Linked DNA regions of Homo sapiens: all the other regions are linked to region 2. The links come from fine-mapping of genetic effects on gene expression. A gene starts in region 2. Each other region holds a variant in brackets. All regions are shown on one strand. Distances are between the middles of the regions.

Region 1 (6,720 bases), 74 kb after region 2:
GATAGCATTTCATGAATCAGTCTTTTTATTTTATTCTTCAAGAAAATAACAGAAAATTTTCTTCACCTGGTTTATACACAATGACCACATTAGAAAGTACTAAAAATTATTTTGTCAGCAACAAGACAACAAACAGAATTAAAGAAAGTGGGAAGAACTAGTGAAATTATATTAGAAAGCAACAATTGTGAGGGTCAAGAGTACTTGATTATGCCCGAGCTAGTTCCCATCTAGCTTCCAGATCTTTCTAATCCATCTCACAGTGGTCTCATACCATATCGGAACTCCCACTTTGGGCCTGTGGAAGAAAATGAATCCCAGGAGTTTGCCTGTAAATGCCTTGGAGCAACTCAGGGACCCACAGATTGGAATGGTATAGATACTGGGCTTGCACCTTTACTAATCAGGAATATCAAAAATAAATACAGCTTTATGCCAGAAAAATTGAACTTGTGGCCAAAACAAATTGTTTCTTATGTTATCTATTTACAAAATGCCTAAAAGAAGCTAGAGAGGGAAGGTGGGGAAGGAAGCAGCAATATTAATTGCCATTCAAAGGCTGTAGTAGGGAGAGAGAAGGAGGAACTTGGAATATAAAAATTTGTGTGACTCTCATCTAAGCCAAGTGGTCCACATGACACTTGAACAAAAGGTGGTCTAAAATGTAAGCCAGAGGAAAATTGTTGTGAGATATAGCTCCATAAATACCATGTTTACACTGAATTTCAAAAGCATGTTTTCTCCAAAAAATCATCTCTTGAAGATGGTATGAAAGCCCACACAATGCAAATCTTGAAGCTCCTTTCAGTTCTCCATATACGAAATAATACTGATGACAGACAATATTTATTTTTCTCTTCTATGTGCCAGGCATACAGAACAATATTCCTCACAACAGTATTCTGAAGTAGATATTATAATCACTTTTGTACAGATTCTCCTAACGATGAGGGTGCTGAAGCACAGAGAGGTTAAGTAATGTGCCCCATGACACAAAGCTAATGTGTAACTCAGCCGGTATTCTAACTAAGGCAATCTATTCTGGAGACAATGCTCTTAATCATTCAGATATATTGTTTCTCACATAAACAATTTAAAAAAACAGGACTACAGGTCAACAAATGTTTCAACTGTCTAAGAGATTAATACGCAGTGGAAAGGTTCTGAAAATATTTAAACTACAACATGCCAACTGGCATACAGTAAACTGAGAATTACACTGAAGCTGAAGAATAAGTGGTACAGAGAAAGAAACTACATAAATATGCTTTCCAGGCGAGGTCACTTCAAAATCATTCCAAATGGTTCTAGAAAACTTAACAGCTCAAAAATGTCTAAAATCTCTCATAAGCATTTCTTTTTAAAACTACACCATTTCTTGTATCTCAGAAGCAGCTGTATCGTGCTGCTTTTCTGTTGTTTTCAAATCCATGTGCTTCTAATACAGGGTTAAGTATCCTAACTCCTGGCAAATCATACATACTTCATATGTGGACTTGATAAGTGATATTTGATTTGGCAAATGGCAAGAGATTATTTAGCAAATTCAAACACTATTTTCCCCATGACCCATTTAAAAAAAAAAACAACAAAAAAAAAACCTCTGTCATTTCCCACCAAGAAAAAAAAAAAAACAGACTGGATTAATAACCAGTCAGCTGAACTAACAAAGTATTAACAAAATGCTCTGCTTGTATGAGTTTTTGTTCTCCTTACCTAAGAAAAATAAATGTTTCCTGCCTTTACTATTATTTAGCATCTCTTAGATCTTAAAATACGAGAAACTCATCTTTAGTGTAATAAGCTTTTGTCTTTCCTGTAGGACAGCAGTCTGTTGTGATTTCTGGCAATGGAGAGGTACTTTAGGACCACATGTTTTGCCTACATTAGGAAAAAAATAGCAAAACCCTAATTTCTGTGGTTGACAAGAGGGAAGAAAGATGGAGCCATCCTCATTCACACTCCCTGTGGAGACAGGGTGGGACTGGCAATGGGGACCAAGGGAAAGACCACCAGCTCTGGTTGATCCTGGATGTGTCTCCATCCCTTCCTTACTGAGACCACAGAGTAAAGCACAGATGAGAATATCTCCTATTACCTTAGGCATGTTGAGGCAAAAATGTAAAGCTCCGAGAAGCACTCCATCATGTGTGCCCCATCCGTAATAGTTTGAGTTTACCAGGGTACTGCATATGAGATCTTATTTCCTCTTGTATTAGATTTATAATTTGAAAATACTTTCCATGAGTTATGTATTGCTATGTATCTAAAAGAGCCTTCCTATAACCACAGTGGCTGGGTCAAAGACCTACTCAAATTTGGCTCTTTCCATAACAATTAATATTCATTAAAAACACAAAGCATAGCACTGTATTTCTATCTAGCATATGTTGAACCATGCAGTTTTGAAAGCATTGTAAAGGAACAATTAGCCTGTCATAGTAAAAAGAGACCCTACCATTTACTGACCTTAGAGCTAGGCATTATAGTAAGAAAATACACCTTACGTGATTTAAACTTTCCAACAACTTTAATAGTGCAGGTAGTACTAGACTCTTTTTGCAGATGGGGAAACAGATTGAGAGAGATTACATTACCAGCCTGAGGTCTCCTGGTTTATACAAGGCAGTGCTGCTGGCTTGTATATCCAAATTTAACTCCATATGCCACGTTATGTAGCATTAACTGCAAAGAATCACAATTAATCTAATCCTGACTTTGTCTCTATGCTGGAGTAAACAAGTTCGCTGTATTTTTTCTTCATTTGTCCTGGATAAAACACTAGCTTAAGATGGCCAAAGGTTTCATCTCAGGGGCCAGTTTTGACAAGACTTTCTAAGCTCCACTATAGAAGGGAAGCTGCAGGAAAAATCGCGTGTGTTCAGTTAGAGATGTCTGAAAAGGCCCATAGCAGCACAGACCCTCCTCCCCAGCCATGGCAGAACCAAAGTTGGTGGGCATTTATACCCAAACCGCCTGCCCGCACCCCCAGCCCCCTCCCCCTGGCCTTTTCTGCTGAGCAATTTAACTGCCGTGGACTTTCCGTCTACTCTACTGGATGCTCATTATCTAGAAACTCCCTCCCCCAACTTTTGAACTATGGCAAAAGCTAAGGTAGATATTTAAGTCACACTGCATGTCACACATGAAGGGTACCCATTAGTATAAATCCCAAAACAGCATTTTTACAAACAAATGGAAGTCACTGTATCCCTCTCACATCCCCTGTTATATGGCTGATAGTTCTATCCTCAGATTGCTCCTTCTTACATGAAATTGGTCTCCCAACAGCTTCATCAATTCCATAAGTCAATCTTCAGCCTGCCTATTTGTGACTCGAAAGTTCCTATCTTTTAAGCGCTTCTCTACATTTTTAAATGAATACAAGCAAAGGCCTCGCTTATTATGAGTATAATACTATATTTATATTGTTAAGTATAATATAAAGTTTCTGGGAAAACTACAAAAAAAAGAGCAGCAAGGCAAAGTATCAGAATCTGACTCAGACTTTTGGTAGCAGACAAGTCTCAACTATTCCGACAAGAATGAAAAACACAGTTTTGGAAGTGTGTATATATATCATGTATGTGACATTTATAAGACAGCAATAATTGCAACCTGCCAAAAGCAAAAGGCCTAAAACTGGTAAGCTAGAGGTCTCTCCGGTGAAATGTAACACAAAGTTATTAATAACAAGCACATTTGTCAACACGAATCTCCTCTGCCTGTTGAGTTGTAATGCTAAGAAGCATCTATGCTGCGAAAGTTTTATCATATGCATAAACATGCACTTGGACTTCACATTTCTCTCTAAATGCAGCTGTTCACAAAAGTACTTTTAAGCTTACACATACACGT[A/G]TAGCTAAGAACTAGATTAAATAAGGTTTGGTTCAAATTATAATATTGAAATAATAACAGCTAACATTTATATAGCATGTTTACATATCTCAACTAATTATAAATGGGAAAATGGGCAAATGGGCAGGCAGAACCCAGAGGGAAGCCTGCCCTCATTAGACCAAGACAGCAAGGTTTCCCCTGGTCACTAGATGAAATTAGGGAGTTGCAATCCTTCAAACGTAAATGTTAAGCCTCTGCTATAAATAATACTCATATAGCTCTAGTTACGTGAATGAAAGATGCTGATTTATCCAAAAATTGTGGACATAATTATCTGGTAAAGGGAAACGTGCACAGTGAGCTAAATCCTCATCTTCCACACAAGGAAGTCAACAGACACTATCAAAAGCCAAGAACCTCCAGTTACATAAGAAATACAGGCACTAATACCTAAAAATAGATAAAAGGAAAAAGAGGTGGCTACCAGGGCATAAGAAAAGGGTATGGACTTCTATTTTTTTCATTATATGTTTTTTTAAATTGTTTCTTAAAGTACACAAATGCATAACTTTGATAAATCTTAAAAGTTTAAATTAACAAAAAAAAAAAACAAGAAAAAATCAAAACAAAAAGAAGGTATATCAAATGTATCCATTCCTTGGACTAGAAGAAGAAAAAAAAAGTAGTGGAGGTCCTCACTGATTAAATTAAATCACCTTCTTGGATATGAAAGACCTTTTTCAGTGGAGCTAAGTCTTAGGAGTCAGGTGTCCATGGATTGCTCTCAGCAAAAGGACAATGTTTCAAGCCCAGAAAGTAATCCTGGACAGCCTGGCAATATGGATGAGAGAGGCTGCAAAAAAGTCACCTGCCCCACCCCATTCCCCAGACAAGCCAAATGACTCCATGAATGAGACTGGGGCAACATCAGCAAAATACCCACCCACCCCCTCACAAAAAAAGAAAAAATCAGAAGACACAGCCATCACCATCTGTGATACAGTACAAAGCCTGAGGGGTGGCCTAAGTAGAATTAAATTAAGCACTATAGGAATTCAGAGAGAGGAAAACCATTCATTCTCAGTAAGAACATAAAGGAAAGCTCCACTAAAGTTGAAATTTAAGAGGGCCCATGCCAGGCTTAGGAAACGGCCCAACAAAGGCCAGAGGAGGGAGAACAGAAGGTGTGTTTGGAAATGAACATGATCTAAGCCATATTAAAATGTGTATCTTATGCTGCTGTTGCTCCACTCTAAACTGGAGTGAGGGGTAAGAGCGGAAGGCCCCTGGGACAGTCAATGGTTTCCGGCACAGTGCAAAACTTGAGTGCAGTATACGTGCCTCTCAATTAACTCATTTATAGGAATATACTCTCCATATTTGTTGGCTTTTCTCGGAACAGGCTCTTAAATCTCAGACACTGACATTTATATCACTATACAGGGTGCCTGTCATGACCCCAGATCTCCAGAAGTCCTTAGCTGCATGCTAGTGGATTCTGTTAATACATTTTCCTTACAATTTCCCAAGAGTGTTGAACTCAAAAGACAGGGACTTTAGTTTAAGGCAACATAATTTCTCCCTTTAGCTCACGACATGTAATATTTATTTTAAGGGCAAGTTCCCTTAAAATAAATATTCTCCTAAATGTATACACATTCCCTATGTCATTTTAATGTAGTACATGCTCCTTTTAACACTACAGTCATTGCTTTAAATCAATAAAATTGGACTAGGTTTGATCCACACAACCCCAAATACCAGTTTTGGTTAAAATACACACATTTTACTCAAGGTTTTCTAGATAAGTTCTAGAACTTATCTAGTTAGTAGATAAGTTAGTAGATTACATATGAACAAACCTACTCCTGCATAGCAAACTGAATATGTACAAAAGACAGTCTATTTGCATGCATCATAAGCCTTCAAAAATAAAAATGAACATATTAACTTTTACTTTTTTACTTTCACTCTGGCCTTTATGAACATGTTTAGAAGTATCATTTACGAAACACAAGTATAAGTAAAACTTGAAAGAGAAAATTAAGGAAGCAACACATCTTTACTTTTATATTCCTTTAATTAAATGAATAAAAATGTCAGGTGCCAAAGATGCAAAATTAAGACACTGCCCTGGCTCTCAACAGCTCACCCAATCTAGTTGGGAGAAACAACTGGCAGACAATTAAAAATCAGTATTTATGCCAGAAGTTGCAATTATTTTCTATGAAAAATCAGATCTTAGCGATGACCATGAGCAATAGGATATGAATAACTCCCATGAGCTTAGTGTCCCAATAATGGAACACAAGGTATAAACAAGTTAAGCACTACTCCTGGTTGTACCTCCCACAGTATTTAATACAGAAGGTTACTAATAAATTATTAGTTGGGTGACTGGATAAACAGATGGATAGAAAGATGAATGAATGGAGATATTAATAGTACTTTTTGGTAACACAGGAAGGTGAGTTTATCCTGCATAGGGAGGGAGGGGATGGGTGGTCCAGGAATAACCTCCCATAGGAAAGGGTGGGCCAACTGCATCTGAAAGTAGTATGTTTCCACAGGGATAAACACACAGGTTAAATAGAACTCAGACAAATTACACAGTTATGTAATAATTTCAAGGTATGTTAAAAGAATCAAAATCTGTGACTTCAAAGCTATTTTTACTTAGGATGAGGGTAAACATTTAATTTTTAAGGTGATTCCATGTACATAAATATCAGATATAAACAGATCAGGTGGCATGTGGATATAATAAAGACTGAGAAGCAAGTACACAAATAGCTGAAATTTTTTAAAATGCAATTCAAATTCAGAATAAGCCAGGTGAAAGAAGAGAAATTATTCCAGAGAGCTGTTCTAGGCAGAGGA
Region 2 (6,720 bases):
AACTTATTTCAGCTTATTATTACCACTTTTAGTTTACCACTTTTAGTTACTCTTGTATGGAATTTTTAAAACAATTTCACATAATCTGAGAAAGTACCATGGTATACTTTGATGGGAAGTAAAAGTCTTTTCTAAGAGTATAGAAGTATAGGAGTTCCTACTTCAATTTTCATCCCAAATGAAAGCAAATACTTCCTCATCTTTTCACATATTATTTATATGGTACTGGGCCTTGGACTGTCAATTTTGATGCAACTGAGAAATCCCAAATAAGACTACAAATGGAAATAGTAGTTTATTCCTATCTGGCTAGAGACTGATTTCTGTGACTTTTCATTTTATCTTCTTTGTATCCCTTCTGATCACACTGCTTTCACTCAATTTACATTGGCATAAAGTTTCACAAGTCCATTAAACATTGTGGCTGATTGTTTCCTTCTCACACATCAGGAACTTTCAGCTCAAGAACTCCAGAATTTGGCAAACAATTCCACTGTCACCCTATCTATGGCTTAATCGGAGGCAAGAGAGTGAGGCAGGTTCCAAGCATGGGCTCTGGAACCAGACCAACTGTGTGACTTTACGGCAGATTTGGGTTGCATGATATGGGGAAAATGGCTTAACTTCTGCATTTCCTTTTTTCTCAACTCTAAAAATGGGACCAATCTCTGGGGATTGTTAAGGATTAAATAAGATAATATAATCACTTAAAACAGTATAGCTAGTGTGACTTTACTGATTTTTAACTACATTTCCTTAGAGCCCTATAGGATCTTAAATGTTTAGTTTATTCCCATTTGATAGGCTCCTAGCCTCTGGGATCTTTCACTGTATCTTCTTTGATTCTTCTCTCCTTTCGTGAGACATCACCATATGTATGCACAACATTCCAATTTTCTTTCAATTTCATTTAACAAGAAACCTACATGATACCTACCACATGACAGACATTATTCTAAGCACTGGTGAATGTTCACTCATTTTATTCTTTTAACAACACTGTAAAGCAAATACTATTATTTATTTTTATTGTAAAGATAAGGCAACCATTTCATAGTGGGCATAAGCAGCTTGCCTAAGGTCATAAGAAAAGAAAGAATTGGAAAAAGGAATTGAGCCCAGGCACTCTGGCGCCTAAACATTCTGCTGAGCAGCTTCTCAGCTGTGTCTTCAAGGGCAAAAGGCCTCCCCAGCAGGCAATAGTGCTGCTGTAAACTAAGGAAAAATCAGCTAATACATAAGAAGCACAAACACATAGAAATGAATGATCTATTGGATATTTACTATAGTCAAACACTTTGACATCTACCACATTTAAGAGACTCTATTTCCATAACTCTAGAAACAGGCACTGTAAGTCAGTTCCTCTTTGGAAAGTTTCCCACACTTCAGTGTTTTGAAATTTGACCAAGAAGTGATTTCCAGTTTTCAGATTATGAAATTATCCTGCACAGAATTTATCTTGCTTAAAGAAAAACTATTCCAGATCTTCCTTTAGATTATGGATTTGGGGCTATAGGAAAATTTACAATTAATTTTGTAGGTTAAATTTCTCTACTTAAGAAATAAAGGATTTTTTTTCCTCTGCTGAAGCAAACAAAAAGATATACATTTATGTTTAAGACATACATGTATGTTCTATTAATGAAATCTTGAATCTATACTCCCAAGGATTAATTTATTTCAGTCAAAGAGAAATTTTTCAAACTGTGCCGTTATTGGGTAGTCTAATCAAAACTATTAGACACTGTATTGCCTCATATTTTAAAATGTCCAGGGGGATATTAAGTTTTTCTTCTCAGAATTCAAAGCCAAGTCACCCAAAACTTTGTGATCAACTAACACTAGTCTCGTCTAACTCCATGGTAACACTTGTGGCAAGAAACATGAAATGAAACTCACCATGAACTCCACATCCTCCGTAAGATCTCCTAATTTCCGCTTTTCCTATGCCTACCTGGCAAGTAGATTTCTGCCATGGACAACAACTTTCTCTATGCAAAAGCACCATTACATCTTTCAAACTTGAAGAGAATTAAAGCAAAAAAAATGCACAGATATTGGCCCAATGTTGATTGATGAAATTCCTGAAGTCCTCTGCACTCGAAATACACCAAATACAAAAAAGATTTCTAAAAATGGCCCTCTACTAAGTGAAAGAGTATAATATCTCTATCTGGATTTGCAATTCATTCCCATGGCAATGGGACTAAAAGCCACTAAAAGTGGCTAACATTTTTTAGTGCCTCCTATATGTCAAGCACTATTCCAGGCAACCAATTCATTCTTAATAACACAGTGTGTTAGATACTATTTTCAAACCCATTACACAGATGAGGAAATTGAGACACAGAGCTGTTGAATCATTTATCTATAATCTAATCCCAATTAATTGGTGGAACTGGGATTCTAACTCCAAAAATCTGGATCTAATAGTCTTCACCTCTCAGAAAACATCATGTTAACTCTCAGAGATCCCCAAACCAGAAGACTAAGTCAAATACCTACAAAAATAAACATACCGTCTTCCTGAACACAAATTACTGGAAAATCCAGTTTACAAGGATACAGAAGATTATTCTGTCTGATTTTAGGTAGTCTTATTCTCCTACTTGATTGTAATTTGGGACTATTTTCTTCATCTTTCTACTTTCCACTATATACAAGAGGCACTCAAAAAGTTCACTGAACATGCAGATCAAGAAGATAAACTTCAAGAAAGTTATGAAGAAATTTAAAGATAATTGCAAATAAGCTTCTTTATTCAAGTCACAGATTAACAGTATGAAAGTTTGAACTAAAATAGAGTATTAGCAAATGTCCCAAAGGTCTAAATATGAAGAGGTTCTAATGGGTCACATTACATAAGTAAAAATAAGGAAGGAAATCCACTATAAGAAAGCAGAACATTTGCTTCACATGCTCATTTGTAGGCTGAACTAATGACTGCCGCCATAAGAAGACAGAGAGAACTGAGTATCCTCCCAAAGGTGAATTTCAATTTTTGTTATTATGAGTGTGCTTGCTTATATAAAAGAATATGCTTAAGGGAAAAAAGGTGCTTTAAAGTTAATATTCTACAAACCATAGTTTATGAGCATAAGAAATTACATAATTTACAGCAATCTGATGTATTAGTAATAATAATGTATTATTATCTCTTAAACAGTGTTTTGTTTTATGGCTAACAGTAGCACCTGTGAATGAGGCAGAACCTGTTATTTGGATTTCACAAGGATGTGAAAGTAATGGTACTGTTAAAAGTACCAAAAATGTATTATATGCTTTAAAAATTCTAGCCAGAAAACAGTATTTTCCTTTTCAACACATCTATTGAAAGTGTTGGATAAATGCAGGATGTTAATATGCTATAAACATAAAGTCTGTTTTTAAAAAATAGCATTTGAAAATCATGAAGGGCTTTTTGTTTTCTTTTGTTTGTATATATGTTTATTGGTAACAGGTGACACTGGAAGCAATGAACACCACAGTGATGCAAGGCTTCAACAGATCTGAGCGGTGCCCCAGAGACACTCGGATAGTACAGCTGGTATTCCCAGCCCTCTACACAGTGGTTTTCTTGACCGGCATCCTGCTGAATACTTTGGCTCTGTGGGTGTTTGTTCACATCCCCAGCTCCTCCACCTTCATCATCTACCTCAAAAACACTTTGGTGGCCGACTTGATAATGACACTCATGCTTCCTTTCAAAATCCTCTCTGACTCACACCTGGCACCCTGGCAGCTCAGAGCTTTTGTGTGTCGTTTTTCTTCGGTGATATTTTATGAGACCATGTATGTGGGCATCGTGCTGTTAGGGCTCATAGCCTTTGACAGATTCCTCAAGATCATCAGACCTTTGAGAAATATTTTTCTAAAAAAACCTGTTTTTGCAAAAACGGTCTCAATCTTCATCTGGTTCTTTTTGTTCTTCATCTCCCTGCCAAATACGATCTTGAGCAACAAGGAAGCAACACCATCGTCTGTGAAAAAGTGTGCTTCCTTAAAGGGGCCTCTGGGGCTGAAATGGCATCAAATGGTAAATAACATATGCCAGTTTATTTTCTGGACTGTTTTTATCCTAATGCTTGTGTTTTATGTGGTTATTGCAAAAAAAGTATATGATTCTTATAGAAAGTCCAAAAGTAAGGACAGAAAAAACAACAAAAAGCTGGAAGGCAAAGTATTTGTTGTCGTGGCTGTCTTCTTTGTGTGTTTTGCTCCATTTCATTTTGCCAGAGTTCCATATACTCACAGTCAAACCAACAATAAGACTGACTGTAGACTGCAAAATCAACTGTTTATTGCTAAAGAAACAACTCTCTTTTTGGCAGCAACTAACATTTGTATGGATCCCTTAATATACATATTCTTATGTAAAAAATTCACAGAAAAGCTACCATGTATGCAAGGGAGAAAGACCACAGCATCAAGCCAAGAAAATCATAGCAGTCAGACAGACAACATAACCTTAGGCTGACAACTGTACATAGGGTTAACTTCTATTTATTGATGAGACTTCCGTAGATAATGTGGAAATCAAATTTAACCAAGAAAAAAAGATTGGAACAAATGCTCTCTTACATTTTATTATCCTCGTGTACAGAAAAGATTATATAAAATTTAAATCCACATAGATCTATTCATAAGCTGAATGAACCATTACTAAGAGAATGCAACAGGATACAAATGGCCACTAGAGGTCATTATTTCTTTCTTTCTTTTTTTTTTTTTTTAATTTCAAGAGCATTTCACTTTAACATTTTGGAAAAGACTAAGGAGAAACGTATATCCCTACAAACCTCCCCTCCAAACACCTTCTCACATTCTTTTCCACAATTCACATAACACTACTGCTTTTGTGCCCCTTAAATGTAGATATGTGCTGAAAGAAAAAAAAAACGCCCAACTCTTGAAGTCCATTGCTGAAAACTGCAGCCAGGGGTTGAAAGGGATGCAGACTTGAAGAGTCTGAGGAACTGAAGTGGGTCAGCAAGACCTCTGAAATCCTGGGTAAAGGATTTTCTCCTTACAATTACAAACAGCCTCTTTCACATTACAATAATATACCATAGGAGGCACAAGCACCATTATTAAGCCACTTTGCTTACACCTTAAGTGTGTACAATTCAAGTGTGAGAATGCTGTGTTAACTATTCTTTGGAATTCTCCTTCTGTCCAGCAAATACTCTAATGATGGTTAAACATGGCACCTACTCAGCAATGCCTTCCTGGACCACAACCCCTATCCCCCTGCCCCACCCTCCTCATTAAAAACAAATACTTCTACTGTTTGGGTGTGTGATAGGGTTCTCAATGCAGATCTCCCTTTTCTAGTTAGCTATATTCTTGACTGCATCCGCTAAAAATGTTAAAGCTTCTTGAGAGACAGACATGCCAGATTTTCTTGGTATCTCCCATAATACGACCTACAGTCCATGGTCTACAGATGTTTTAAATAGAATTGCTATTCTCGATACATACAAAGACGTAATTGCTGACCCACAATCAGTAACATCCATATTGAGAGATTTTTCAAAGGATGGTGACCCTGCTTGTATTTATTTACCTTGGTATTTTTTCTTGCATCCTTCTGTGATTCAAAAAAGTAAAATGTGGCTTTCTGAAATGATGGATAAGAGTCTACATCTTCTAGAAAAAATACATAAAGGAGTAGTTAAGCTCTGTAAATGTGCCACGAGCTCCAACACGACCATCGTAGGGTGAAGCCCACGTTTTCTTCCATGGCCTCAAAGGCCCTAGAACTTGCCTACCTTTCTGGCCTTACCTCCTAGCTACTTATCCATCTCTTGAACTTTATACTCTTGTATAAATTTCTAACTTTCAGAAAATGCCATACTCTGTTTTGGCACCACACATGTATATTTCCCCCTGGTACACTTGGAAGACTCTTATCCATCTGTGAAACCCTATGTTGTCATCACTTGGTCCATGAAATATTACCTGGCCAATATCCCACCATCACCTCAAACCCAATCACCCCCTCCTCTGTATGCTGTCACACCTATATTATTAAACTTATCACATTGCATTGTAATTACTTCCTGACCTTTGTATCTACTCTTTTAGTAACTGATGTATATATCTGAAAGGAGAGATTGTTTCATTGTGCAATCAATAAATGTTTGATAAAATAAAGCCCATTTGGTTTATTTTATGTATTAGAGAAGCAAAAGGGAAGCCAATTCTCATTGATGTTTTTATTATCCAAAGACAACATAAATTTCTTGAAATGAAAGCTCAAGCTCTGTCCACTCTCCTATAACATGTATGTAGGGCCTGAAAATTGTGGTGCTCCTGGGGTCACTAGTGAATGATCATGACAACAGGAGGATCATGGAATAGCCAAATCCAAAGTTTTAAAGCTATTGACAAAATCCTTTAGCTATGCACTATTGATAATGGTTAAGTAAAATTTGTAACTGTGAATATAACAAACACCTTTAGAAAGTACTCTTGATGTCTGATCTTCATTCTCTCTGATAAAAGAATTAAATAATCATTACTATTAGGGATGCCACTAAATCCATATTACCTCTACTGAGTACATTACACAATCACAAATAGACTATAATCATGTAAATAACTGCATCCAAGCTACCCTTGTTAAACAGCCAGGTATGTCTGGTGGGGTAACCTGTGTATTTTGCCTCTAATGACAATTTCAATCTCTACTTAATGTGGGTACACCTAAAGTAT
Region 3 (5,000 bases), 67 kb before region 2:
GATAGGACTACTGTATTTTCCTAGATGAAGACTGCAACCAAGAAGAATGAAAACAGGTTTCTTGCCAAAACATCTTTCTGCATGTCCATATGCACTAAAGCTATAGGGAAATATACTCAATTATAACAATTATTACATCAAATAATCTCATTAAAATACTTAACAATATCCATGCTATTCAGCACTTGTTGTCTAGGTACTGTGTTAAACACTGTCTTAACACATTCCTGAGGAAATATAAGACAATCCATGACAGAATATTCCATGACTGACTGAAGCTCATGTACAATCTCTGCAGTGGAACTAGAGGGTTATTTTATGGAATTCTAGTTTTCATTGTGTATCACTGAAGGCTGGATGGTTTCTGCATATGCCAACTTCCCCCACTAGACAGAAAGAGGATAAGGGGACTCTGTGAGGTCTTAGATATATCCTGAGTTCAGGAATTTATGTTTACCTTTCCCATTTAGGTTTCCAAAACAACTGTAGCAGACGTCACTAGAAGGGTCAGTTTCTGGAAGCACTGGAAGGGAAAGCTATGAGAAGGGTGTGTGGATAAAAATCAGAATGCTGAGGATTAAGGCTACTAAGAAACTTTAGGCTCCTGGAAGCAACTGTTCAAATCTTACATTATTCATTTGATACACAGCTCACAGATTGTACCGTGTGCTTAGCAGATGAAAGGATAATACAAAATAGTATACAGCCCAGTGTCTGACCTCATAAGAAAAGGGGGTAACCAGTGGGTTACTAGAAAACTGTCGTAGGAAGCAGTCACATCCAAAACCTGGAGAAACTCATCAGCCTATAAAAGCATCTGCTGAATTCCAAAATCAGTTTTGAAGGTTAATATAAATGGAAATTCTCTAATATGTTTGTTATATTTAAGAAAATGGACCTCTGGAATAAAAACATATCTACTTACTTTTCTCTACAAGAAGCCAAAAAATGAAAAAGTAACTATATTATTAGTCCTTATGTAGCTAGAGAAATTCATATCATATGTGGGTGAGTAACCTGAGAAAATCTTCCTGCCATAGCACGAAATGGTCAGTACTCACTAGAAAAGCAAACTGTGCCCAGCAACAGATATTAAAACAATTGATCAATATTGCTTACATTCCATATAATTCTGTCTTTAGATTTTGAAGGATTATCAGAAGAATTTTTTTCTGCCATAAGACCATATTTGCTAAATTCCAGTTATATTAATAGCTTATACATGATCTATTGAGAGGAAAGGCACTAACATTTCCTCAGAACCTCCTAAGTACAGGTACCATGACGGATGCTACATGCAAATCTCATTAGCTCGATGTACTACAGGATCACTGTACATCGTGACTGCATAATGTATGCATTTCTCTTCCTTTAAGAATACTATTTTCCTCAATTATCTAACACTTGAAGAATGATGAGAGAAAAAGACATATCCTACTTGTGAAAGCCCTTCAGAGACTCCATAGTTAAGTTTCAACTGTTAAAAACAATATGAAGTGAGTCTGAGATGAAGAGGTGAATACTGTACAATCACTGTTATGAAGTGGAGCTTTTACTATTTGAAGATGGCATTTCTGGTCTTAAAAGTTTAAAAAGAGAAGAATAAAGAAAAAAAATCCAACACTGTAATGGAGTTAGCACAAAAGAATCAGAAAAAGAATGAAATCACAATTAATTCCCATTGGTACAAGCAGTACAACTGTCGGTGGTACAAAAGGATACAGCCAGGTATTTTTGGTAGGAGAAAGAAAAGTAATGGTGTCATCAAGGTACACTTCCCCAAATATGCAAGGATATCTTTGATTACATGTAGATTATTCAATTAAATGCTTTAAAAAAATTTCTAGCTGAAATCGTTTGTCATGGCTTATATCAGGAAGTGAACCTTTTAAAAACAGGTATATTTACCCATAATGGCCCAGTGGGCTTTTCCCTAGTGCTAGGAACAACTTAACAAGTACTTCAAAGTTAATTTGGCAGTAACAGTTTGAAAGTGGGCTATAAATAAGAAAAACTATGCCTTGTGATAAAAAGGTAGATATGAAAAAATGAATTAAAGTGGCAAGTTTTACTTTACTTTATTTATTATTTTATTTATTTTTCTTGAGACGGAGTCTCACTCTGTTGACCGGGCTGGAGTGCAGTGGCGTGATCTCGGCTCACTGCAAACTCCACCTCCCAGGTTCAAGTAATTCTCCTGCCTCAGCCTCCCAAGTAGCTGGGACTACAGTGTGGCATGCTCTACCATGCCTAATTTTTGTATTTAGTAGAGACAGAGTTTCACCATGTTGGCCAGGTTGATCTTGAACTCCTGACCTCAAGTGATCCACCTGCCTCAGCCTCCAAAAGTGATGGGATTAGAGGCGTAAGCCACCACGCCTGGCCCTAGGCGTTATTACTTTGAAAGAGGGCTAAATTCATTCTAGTGGGATGGTTTTTCAACTTCTAGTGAAATTTTTTAACTCAAAAATGATTTGAAGCAATAGTATAACTCTATTTTTGCTGATTCCCAAAAAAGAGCTAAAAATCCCAATGAGGTTTTAAATGGCTCTAAACATGTTGCTTATTTAGGCAAATTAAATAATTTTTTTTCATATTTTAATCAAATGTTCATCATTTATGTGCAAGCAGCAGCTTAGACTCATCCTTTCTGACACTCAGGGAGCTAAAGCAATTAATTGTTAGAGGTCAGGAAGAGACAAGCACATGGTGATGACTGTTGCTTGCGTCATCATACAGTTCAATTGGTTTCTTCTCTCTTGTCCTTATAATGACTAACCTTGCCATCACCATCCACCAAAATCATCACTAAGTGGCCCAAATGCAGGAAGTGCCGTAAATTACACAACGGAGATATGCCTAGAAAGTTATCCAAAAGACAAAGAATATTTTTTAAAGCATTTGAATTTCTTGCTATGTTGAAAGT[A/G]TTATGGTTATTCTTAGAGCAGGATGTACCTGTAGATTCGCTATTTCCATGTGAGGATCACGAAGGTACCTAACTCATAGAGTTACCCTGGTATCTTAAGATAGCTAATACATCTAAAGTGCTTAGAAATGTTTTGGCATATAGTAAGTGCTCTATTAGTGTTAGCTATTATTATCAAAATACTGCATGACCATTTTAGAAAAGCTAGAAAATACAAGTATACAGAAACTAGAAAAAGAAATCCCCATTCTCACCTCACACTTTATTTTAATGTACAGACGCATAGGTGTTTCATGAGTTTATACTAAGTGCTGATGTTTTCTTAAACATGGATCACTGTCTTCTATGAAGAACATTGAGTTATAGGCCACAAAAATAGAAATATAAATCAAGAATTAAATTGAATGTATCCAGATCCTGACTGTTGTTTATAATTTATCTGCTCTAGACCTTATTAAATATACACTAGAAACAAAAATTAAAGGCAGGGCACTATCAGAGAAAACCTAGGAAACATCAGGGCTTCAGAGACATAACCTCACAGTAATAAGTCTAAAAATAATACATGAACACAAGAGCTGAAAGTAGTACAGAATATGGTGGTAATTATAATAGAAAAATGAGGGCTCAGAGAAGGTCACCTCAAGGATAAAAGGCCTGCTTCTTCTAATTGACCAAAAGTCATCAGCCCTTCTTTTTGTTTTAAGGTATACTTTTAATAAACCTAAGACATATCAAATTCTTATTTGAGCAATGATAACAGTAAAGTACAATGGAGGAAAACTATTTACAAGCCTGTAACAGAGAGATAGACCTGCACTCACACAAGTATACAGGGATATGCATACAGAAAGAATATGCTACATATCCCAAACTTATCCCAAGCTAGCAGAGGTAATAAAATGCAAAGGACTCCATTGCTGGGGTCTGGACAAACCTGTTGGAAAGGCCGAGTCTGGGCTTGCCTGAGAAGTCGCTGTTGCTGCTGCTGCTGCAGAAGCTTCATCTGTATCAACTGCTGCTGCGATGTGATTGCATGAAGAGAAGGCGGCTGCATCATGGCGCCTGAGCGCCGCTGTAGCATGTTTGACAGAGCTTGTTTGGTGTTGGTTGGGACAAAGGAGCCTGCAGGGTCCAATCTGGAGCCACCTACAAAAGCAACCAAAAGGAAACACTTTCTAACTACGTTAATGCAACAGGTCTTTTTATGTATCAAAACACAGAAATTTCACCTTCTAAGTCTCACTTTATGAACAAAGTAGAAAAAAATGCACTGTCCCACCTGCCACAAATATTATAGACCTGTTGAGTTGCATAACTTACAAAAGATGAGGGGAGTGATGTAGAAGTGAATTATACTACTTTAATTTCATGGAGGTCTTCAGTTCATAAATTGAAATGTGTAAAACATACAGTTGTTGGCATAATTTCATAATTACATGGGTTTTAAATTAGGCAAGGCCCTCAGGAACATATTACTTGTATAAAACATACTGCCTTTGTGATGTATTTTGCCAAGTTCTTAAGCCATTCATATAAATCCTTTTGTACTTTTCATCAAATCTGAAGCTCATGTCATTAAAGTCTTTTCACCATGGCAAAATGAAAATGCCTGTTTTATAGCAGAGGCATGAAAATACTTTAAAATCTTGAAATGCTTGCAAACTTCAAGTACTATGATTGTAATGACAAAACATCTTTTTTGAAGGCTAAAAATCAAATAAACAAGCAACTATTATACCGATGCTTAAGAAACCACAGGAAATCCTTTACATATTTGTATATTATAATTTGTCACGCGCATTTAAAAGTTAGGGAAAAAAAAGTCGACATTTGCTGGCTTCACAATAAATGTAAATTCTTCATTCACCAAAAATAGTCCTTGATACATGTAAATGAAAAAAACCTCTACATAAGCACCTCACAAAAGTTGTTTTATCTTTTCTATAAAGCAAGGTGTATGATGAAAACAAACATTTTAAAGCTGTTTTTTTGGAAAAACCCACATTCTTTTAAAGACTCAGTGCCACAATCAGCAATACAATTTATGAAGTTGTGAAAGGAAACTAAAAAT

What was found. PIP is the estimated chance that this variant, and not a neighbour inherited with it, causes the effect. A credible set is the group of variants that fine-mapping cannot tell apart.
Region 1: its variant is the best candidate, but not a certain one, in a credible set for the expression of P2RY13 in whole blood (TOPMed, PIP 0.66).
Region 3: its variant is the best candidate, but not a certain one, in a credible set for the expression of P2RY13 in whole blood (TOPMed, PIP 0.58).

What each region holds. Positions count from the first base shown.
Region 1 is chr3:151,251,730-151,258,449 of GRCh38, reverse strand. The region is part of intron 16 of MED12L (mediator complex subunit 12L); the gene reads right to left. All of the region lies in intron 1 of P2RY14 (purinergic receptor P2Y14), which reads left to right. Among named protein-coding and RNA genes, the nearest start is that of P2RY14, 23 kb to the left of the region's middle. The variant A/G (reference allele first, on the strand shown) is at 3,859.
Region 2 is chr3:151,325,751-151,332,470 of GRCh38, reverse strand. P2RY13 (purinergic receptor P2Y13) reads left to right here and starts at 2,922. Exons shown (of 2, transcript NM_176894.3): 1 at 2,922-2,990; 2 at 3,464-6,159. The coding sequence starts at 2,943. The coding sequence ends at 4,480. All of the region lies in intron 16 of MED12L (mediator complex subunit 12L), which reads right to left.
Region 3 is chr3:151,393,731-151,398,730 of GRCh38, reverse strand. MED12L (mediator complex subunit 12L) reads right to left here. Exons shown (of 45, transcript NM_001393769.1): 39 at 3,864-4,075. Among named protein-coding and RNA genes, the nearest start is that of P2RY12, 11 kb to the right of the region's middle. The variant A/G (reference allele first, on the strand shown) is at 2,927.